Regions from separate parts of the Homo sapiens genome. Here region 1 is linked to region 2. The links come from fine-mapping of genetic effects on gene expression. A gene starts in region 2. The other region holds a variant in brackets. All regions are shown on one strand. Distances are from middle to middle.

Region 1 (4,388 bases), 23 kb after region 2:
TTCTAAACGCCTGTGGTCTTTTCTCCTGGGGAGCCGGGCACCTCTACACCATCCTCGGCCTGCTCCTTCGGCACAGGATGGCTGCAATTCCCTTCCCGAGCAAGTTAGGAAACTGAGGCCTACGAGAGACTCCAGGGGGCAGAGCCCAGCAGCCCTGCCCTCAGCTGCACCTGCCGCCACCATCTCCCTCCCAGGCCCAGCCCCATCCCCACCCCTGCCTGCCCCCACCCATACCTGCCCCCACCACTCTGATGTGCCTTTCTTGTCTCTTGCCCAGTCCGCCAGAAGAAGCAGCGCCAGTGGATTGGCCCAACGGGAATGAACCAAAACAGTAAGTGTCCCCGGAGGCAGGAGCCTCCCTCAGGCCCTGGACAGAGGCCATGGAGGCAGAGTCGAGGCTCTCTGCTGACCACAGACGGAGCCTGTGGCTGCTTGAAGCCTCTGATCTCCACGGTGCTTGTCTGACATGTGACTGTGGCCAACAGACGTCCCCACACCAGGGAGGGCGGAGGCTTCTTGATGGGCTGATGGCTGAGCGGTTTCTACCGCTGAAGCCTCAGAGTGTAGAAACATCTCATGGTATCCTTTCTGTCCCTCGCCCCATCTCTAGGGTCCCCAGCAGCCCTCACCTCCTCCAGCAGTATTCCCCAACACAGTAGCCAGTGGATGTTAACAGGCAGCACTCACAAGAGGCCTCCCTGATCAACAGATCTGGAAAACCATGAGTTAGGCACAGCTAAGCATAGCTATTTCAGGACTTATCAGAACCTTAATGGGCATTTTTGTATTGCCCATCTCCAAAGCAAGGATCCATTAAGAAGGGCTGTCCAAGTTATTTTCATCATGGAACAACTTACAGGGCCAGTATTAGGACATTTTGGTGCAGCCAGCCCAACACCATCCCTGGTCTTCATCCTCCCTCCTTCCAGCCACAGTCAGAGACACCCTAATGGATGGAGACATGGCGCTCTTCCTGCCTCCCATTCTGCCTTCTTCCCCCTTCCCAAGTCCACAGCCAAATCCTTCAAGAGGGCTCTGTTGAATTTGTTATTAAGAAAGGCTCTGGAAACTTTCTTAATAACATACAGGCCCTCAGCTCCTGGAGGGCAGGGAGCAGATCTGTCCCGTCACCTGTGCTCCAGTCTCCTGCTTGGTAAATGCTTGATGACCGACTCACGGAAGGCCCCACCCTGCCAGTCAGATTGCTGGGTTACCCAAACCTGCTCTAAAAGTCTGCTGCTGATCCTGCTAGCATGAACCTCCCAGGAAGAAAGGAGAGGGGGATGCATTGAAGGGGCTGTGGGTGCCTTTGTCCTCTCCCCGCTAACATCATGGGAATAGGAGATTAAAGTTCTGGGCACCTGCTGGGGAAGGAGACGGAGGACACAGCCACAAGTCTGACACTGTCTCCTACCATCTGCCCAGTGTCTTTCCATCGCAACCACACGGCAACCGTCCGATCCCATGCTGAGAACCCCACAGCCTCCCACGTGGATAACGAATACAGCCAACCTCCCAGGAACTCCCACCTGTCAGCTTATCCAGGTAAGCACCAGCGGGTGCTCCCAGGCACGCAGGCAGGGCTGCAGCAGGCCGCCAAGGCAGGTCACGTGATGCCCTTGAAGGTCGGGTGATGGCCCAAAGACAGAATGGAGACCCCAGGGTGCAAGGGGATCAAACATCGCAGGATGCAGCAGGGGTACGGAAGGGATATAGCCTTTGCAGGCCCCAGCTGTCCCGTTTGAGACCACAAACTACTCATCTGGAGAGAAGAATGCACTCAGAAAGCCATCAACCCCAGCCTTGCTGTGACCTAATGGGCCTGTTTCCCTTCAGGGCCTTGAGGGGCCTGGATGGTAAATGAGGCCCCTTGGATTCCTCCGGGCTAGAAGAGAGCCATTAAGTGGGCTGCAGGAGCGCTGTACTAAAGGCTCCCAGACTGGCACTACCAATTAAGCCCCAGGGAGCCTGGAGTTCAGCATCATTAGTGAACGTTTGGCTGATTTGATCAAAACAGATAAGGGGTTGTCACCGGCTCATAAAGCCCCTGTGATCTTCCAACCCACTGTGGGCAGCGGCTCTAGGATCCAAGGGGCTCTGTGGAGTCAAAAACCCTCTGCAAACAGCGTCCTTTCTTTCCCCAGCTCTGGAAGGGGCTCTGCATCGCTCCTCCATGCAGCCTGACAACTCCTCCGACAGTGACTATGATCTGCATGGGGCTCAGAGGCTGTAAAGGTGAGCCCGTCTCCAGCCTGACCCCAGCACCCCAGGGTCCCCCACAGTCCTGGGGGTGAGCAGCAGCCACTCAATGCCTCCCCTCAGTCCCACCCTGCCCATACATGAATAGGGGACCCCCAGCATCTTGATTCTTGTAAAGGGAAAGACAAACGTCAGCTGTTTAGGTTATACGAGCTGATTTGACAATTAGAGCAGAGCAATCATGAACTTTAACAATCAACTCTTAAACTCCATTCGGAAGGCCACACAGGCAGAGTCCCTAAGAGCTCCGTGATGGAGTCACACCCCTCTAGAGCTGCCAACCTGCCAGCGGG[C/G]AGAAGGAGCCCCTGGCTCAGGACAGCAGCCGTCCCCAAGATGGAGCCCAGAGCATGGGTCCTGTCCCCGACCTCCCTGCATCACCTCTGCGGTGTCTTCCTCTAACACGTTTCCTTCTCACCCCACAGAACTGGGATCCATGAGCAAAAAGCCGAGAGCCAGACCTGTTTGTCCTGAGAAAACTGTCCGCTCTTCACTTGAAATCATGTCCCTATTTCTACCCCGGCCAGAACATGGACAGAGGCCAGAAGCCTTCCGGACAGGCGCTGCTGCCCCGAGTGGCAGGCCAGCTCACACTCTGCTGCACAACAGCTCGGCCGCCCCTCCACTTGTGGAAGCTGTGGTGGGCAGAGCCCCAAAACAAGCAGCCTTCCAACTAGAGACTCGGGGGTGTCTGAAGGGGGCCCCCTTTCCCTGCCCGCTGGGGAGCGGCGTCTCAGTGAAATCGGCTTTCTCCTCAGACTCTGTCCCTGGTAAGGAGTGACAAGGAAGCTCACAGCTGGGCGAGTGCATTTTGAATAGTTTTTTGTAAGTAGTGCTTTTCCTCCTTCCTGACAAATCGAGCGCTTTGGCCTCTTCTGTGCAGCATCCACCCCTGCGGATCCCTCTGGGGAGGACAGGAAGGGGACTCCCGGAGACCTCTGCAGCCGTGGTGGTCAGAGGCTGCTCACCTGAGCACAAAGACAGCTCTGCACATTCACCGCAGCTGCCAGCCAGGGGTCTGGGTGGGCACCACCCTGACCCACAGCGTCACCCCACTCCCTCTGTCTTATGACTCCCCTCCCCAACCCCCTCATCTAAAGACACCTTCCTTTCCACTGGCTGTCAAGCCCACAGGGCACCAGTGCCACCCAGGGCCCGGCACAAAGGGGCGCCTAGTAAACCTTAACCAACTTGGTTTTTTGCTTCACCCAGCAATTAAAAGTCCCAAGCTGAGGTAGTTTCAGTCCATCACAGTTCATCTTCTAACCCAAGAGTCAGAGATGGGGCTGGTCATGTTCCTTTGGTTTGAATAACTCCCTTGACGAAAACAGACTCCTCTAGTACTTGGAGATCTTGGACGTACACCTAATCCCATGGGGCCTCGGCTTCCTTAACTGCAAGTGAGAAGAGGAGGTCTACCCAGGAGCCTCGGGTCTGATCAAGGGAGAGGCCAGGCGCAGCTCACTGCGGCGGCTCCCTAAGAAGGTGAAGCAACATGGGAACACATCCTAAGACAGGTCCTTTCTCCACGCCATTTGATGCTGTATCTCCTGGGAGCACAGGCATCAATGGTCCAAGCCGCATAATAAGTCTGGAAGAGCAAAAGGGAGTTACTAGGATATGGGGTGGGCTGCTCCCAGAATCTGCTCAGCTTTCTGCCCCCACCAACACCCTCCAACCAGGCCTTGCCTTCTGAGAGCCCCCGTGGCCAAGCCCAGGTCACAGATCTTCCCCCGACCATGCTGGGAATCCAGAAACAGGGACCCCATTTGTCTTCCCATATCTGGTGGAGGTGAGGGGGCTCCTCAAAAGGGAACTGAGAGGCTGCTCTTAGGGAGGGCAAAGGTTCGGGGGCAGCCAGTGTCTCCCATCAGTGCCTTTTTTAATAAAAGCTCTTTCATCTATAGTTTGGCCACCATACAGTGGCCTCAAAGCAACCATGGCCTACTTAAAAACCAAACCAAAAATAAAGAGTTTAGTTGAGGAGAAATGAGCCTTTAGAAAACTGTTTTTCAAGGGTTGGCTGACTTGGGTGATGCATTTCAAAAAGATGTTTGGTGATGCGATGGAATAGAAGCACTTTAGTCTTCAACGTGCCATTGTCAAGTTCCTGCCTTGGCTGGTGAAGGCAA
Region 2 (4,388 bases):
ATCAACATGGAGATCACACACACATCAACATGGAGATCACACATACATCAACATGGAGATCACACACACACGACATGGAGATCACACACACACATCAACATGGAGATCACTCACACACATCAACATGGAGATCACACACACACATCAACATGGAGATCACATTCACACACATCAACATGGAGATCACACACACACAACATGGAGATTACACACACACATCAACATGGAGATTACACACACAACATGGAGATCACATTCACACATATCAACATGGAGATCACATTCACACACATAAACATGGAGATCACACACACACATCAACATGGAGATCACACACACATCAACATGGAGATCACACACACAACATGGAGATCACACACACACATCAACATGGAGATTACACACACATCAACATGGAGATCACATTCACACACATCAACATGGAGATCACAAACACACATCAACATGGAGATCACACACACACATCAACATGGAGATCACATTCACACACATCAACATGGAGATCACAAACACACATCAACATGGAGATCACACACACACATCAACATGGAGATTACACACACATCAACATGGAGATCACATTCACACACATCAACATGGAGATCACACACACATCAACATGGAGATCACACACACATCAACATGGAGATCACACACACACATCAACATGGAGATTACACACACATCAACATGGAGATCACATTCACACACATCAACATGGAGATCACACACACACATCAACATGGAGATCACACACACACATCAACATGGAGATTACACACACATCAACATGGAGATCACATTCGCACACATCAACATGGAGATCACACACACACAACATGGAGATCACACACACACATCAACATGGAGATTACACACACATCAACATGGAGATCACACACTCATCCACATGGAGATCACACACACACATCAACATGGAGATCACACACACATCAACATGGAGATCACATTCACACACATCAACATGGAGATCACAAACACACATCAACATGGAGATCACACACACACATCAACATGGAGATTACACACACATCAACATGGAGATCACATTCACACACATCAACATGGAGATCACACACACACATCAACATGGAGATCACACACACACGTCAACATGGAGATCACATTCACACACATCAACATGGAGATCACATTCACACACACAAACATGGAGATCACACACACATATATCAAATGGGGATTACACACACATCAACCCCAACATGGAGATCACACACACAACACAGAGATCACACAAGTCAACATGGAGATCATACACACACATCAACATGGAAATCACAAACACACAACATGGAAATCACACACACATATCAACATGGAGATCACACACACACATCAACATGGAGATCACACACACATCAACATGGCGATCACAATCACACACATCAACATGGAGATCACACACAACACAGAAATCACACACGTCAACATGGAGATTACACACACATCAACATGGAGTTCACACACACATCAACATGGAGATCACACACACTCAACATGGAGCTCACACATACACCTCAACATGGAGATCACACAACACAGAGATGACACACACAACACAGAGATCACACAAGTCAACATGGAGATCTCTCTCTCTCTACACACACACACACACACACACACACACACACACACACACACTGGCACAAGCCCAGCATTCATGGCGCAGCCATCTCTTGTACTTGCTAGCAAAACACCACCTGTGGAAAGTCAGCTCAAACTTCCAACCTCATCCCTCACAAAGGGGGAATGGAGGGTTTGGTTTTGGCTTTCACTGGAGTCTGCAACAAGAACTGGCATCATGCTGCCCATTTCCCGCCTCTCCCCACCCAGACCCCTGCCTCAGGGACGCCTGTCCTCAGCCCAGCCCTCAGCTGCAGCCAGGCCTTCAGCCTCCGTAACCCCCGCTCAGGGTCCCCACCCCCTGCAGCCCTGTCCCTCCAGGATGCATGGCCTTGTCCTGTGTGGGGGTGGCCGAGAGCACTGCCCCAGCCCTGGGTACCTTGGGCAGGAAGCTGGCAGAGGCCAGGGCTGCCATTCAAACAGGGGCAGGTGGTTTTGCCAGGAGGAAGTTGACAGTTCAACTTCAAACATGGGTGACGCAGGCCCCACACTGCCTGCTCCCCGTCCCACCCCTCCCTGAGCACGCCACCCCGCCCTCTCCCTCTCTGAGAGCGAGATACCCGGCCAGACACCCTCACCTGCGGTGCCCAGCTGCCCAGGCTGAGGCAAGAGAAGGCCAGAAACCATGCCCATGGGGTCTCTGCAACCGCTGGCCACCTTGTACCTGCTGGGGATGCTGGGTGAGTACCCCTCCCAGGTGTCCTGCGAACACCCGGGCTCGCTCCAGTGCAAGGAAGGAGTTCCCAGTTTTACCCAAGGCTGACTCTGGGATCCACATGTCAGCCCTCTGGAGCGTTGTGGAGATTTGGGGCCACTGGGATCCCTGCCTGCCCCCACTAAGCCGCAGCTTGGCCCTCTGTCCTGCATGTCCCACCCGCCAGGAGCACAACCTTGCCTCTCTCATGCGCTGTTGAGAACCCTGCTTTACCCTTCCAGTGCAAGAGAGACTGCAGGGGGGACCCGCATTTGATGGGGCCCAGACAACTTGATTCCTAGGCTGAGTTGGATTTTAGCAGAGCATTCAGGCCTCCCTCTGCGAGGTCCCCCACTGACAGCCCAGCCTTTACTTGGTCGCCTCCAGAGACATGGAAACTCGCCGTCTCCGAGGCAGCTCTGATGATGCTCTGGACAGACAGTGGGCCGAGGCAGGGTGGAGCCGCCTCTGAGGACGATGTCTGAGCAAATGTCAAGGACTCATAGCGGAAGTCCTAGGCCCTCTCATGCCCAGTCCTGGGTCAGTCCCAGAGGGGCCCAGCCAGGCCGGCTGGGATGAGTACACGCTGGGCCTGCTCTCACTCCAGCCCTGGGTTGTAAGCCCAACCCTGTGTGACCTCGGATAGGTCCCCAAGCCTCTCCAGGCCTTGATCTCCCCATTTATGAAATGTGGGGGTTGGGGGTGTGAACTGGATGAGGCCTGACCCACTTCCTGAGGATTTAGAAGGTCTGGCAGGGTGACAGAGGTGCGTGACTCTGGGCTGGAAACAGGAGGATGCGAGCAGCTTCCAGGCTGGCAGGGAGAGGGTCCGGAGGCCTTGCCTGCCTGAGCAGGGAGCCTCAGCAGCCTTCTAGGGAAACCGGGTGTGCAGGTGTGAGTGTGGGGGAATGCATGTGTGTGTGTCTGTGTGCATGTGTGTGAGAACTGTGTGTGGGGGAATGTGTGAGTCTATGTGTGTCTGTGTGAGTCTGTGTGTACGTGTGTGAGAACTGTGTTGGGGGGTAATGTGTGACTCTGTGTGTGAGTCTGTGTGTGAGTCTCTGGGCATGTGTGTGAGTACTGTGTGTAGGGGAATGTGTGAGTCTGTGTGTGAGTCTGTGTGTGAGTCTCTGGGCATGTGTGTGAGTACTGTCTGGGGGGGAATGTGTGAGTCTGTGTGTGAGTCTCTGGGCATGTGTGTGAGTACTGTGTGGGGGGGAATGTGTGAGTCTGTGTGTGAGTCTGTGTGTGAGTCTCTGGGCATGTGTGTGAGTACTGTGTGTGGGGGGGGAATGTGTGACTCTGTGTGTGAGTCTCTGGGCATGTGTGTGAGTATTTTGTGGGGGGGAAAGTGTGAGTCTGTGCGTGTGAGTCTGTGTGTGAGTCTGTGTTCATGTGTGTGAGAACTGTGTATGGGGGAATGTGTGAGTCTGTGTGTGAGTCTGTGTGTGAGTCTCTGGGCATGTGTGTGAGTACTGTGTGGGGGGAATGTGTGAGTCTGTGTGTGAGTCTGTGTGTGAGTCTGTGTGTGGGAGTCTGTGCGCATGTGTGTGAGAACTGTGTGTGTGTGCTTTCATGAGCACAATGCGGCCTCCAAAGGCAGGATTATCTCCCCAACACATGTGACAATGGCACCTGTGCACACATGTTCACATGGTTCTTCTCACATGTAACAACAACAGGTACAAAATGCCTTCTGTCCCAAAGTAAGAGGCCTGAGACAGACCTCTGGCTGGCTTCAGGGACCCTGCTAAGGAGGGACCAGGCCCTTAAACCCCCCACCTGCTCCTCACCTCTGGCCTCAGACTTCATTGAGATAGGGCGGCTCCCAGCTGAGTATGGGAACCCGTGTCCTGCTCTAGGGCCCTCCCAACTGAATCCCATCATGGGTGAGGCTCCTGATGGCACCAGGCAAGTCCCCTGGCCCAACACAGGCCACAGTCAGGAAGACTTGGAGGTAGCCCCTTCACCCCAGTATGGGGACCTCCTTGAACCCCAGGAATACTCA

Alleles and levels. Positions count from the first base shown, and alleles are read on the strand shown. Sizes are in standard deviations (SD) of each study's normalised expression.
With allele G in place of C in region 1, the expression in skeletal muscle of the gene that starts at base 2,240 in region 2 is lower (large effect, 0.80 SD a copy in GTEx).

The links. PIP is the estimated chance that this variant, and not a neighbour inherited with it, causes the effect. A credible set is the group of variants that fine-mapping cannot tell apart.
Region 1: its variant is the best candidate, but not a certain one, in a credible set for the expression of CD5 in skeletal muscle (GTEx, PIP 0.84).

What each region holds. Positions count from the first base shown.
Region 1 is chr11:61,123,607-61,127,994 of GRCh38, forward strand. It overlaps CD5 (CD5 molecule), which reads left to right. Exons shown (of 11, transcript NM_014207.4): 8 at 278-331; 9 at 1,426-1,545; 10 at 2,145-2,235; 11 at 2,682-4,246. The coding sequence ends at 2,233. Among named protein-coding and RNA genes, the nearest start is that of CD5, 23 kb to the left of the region's middle. The variant C/G (reference allele first, on the strand shown) is at 2,553.
Region 2 is chr11:61,100,250-61,104,637 of GRCh38, forward strand. CD5 (CD5 molecule) reads left to right here and starts at 2,240. Exons shown (of 11, transcript NM_014207.4): 1 at 2,240-2,366. The coding sequence starts at 2,312.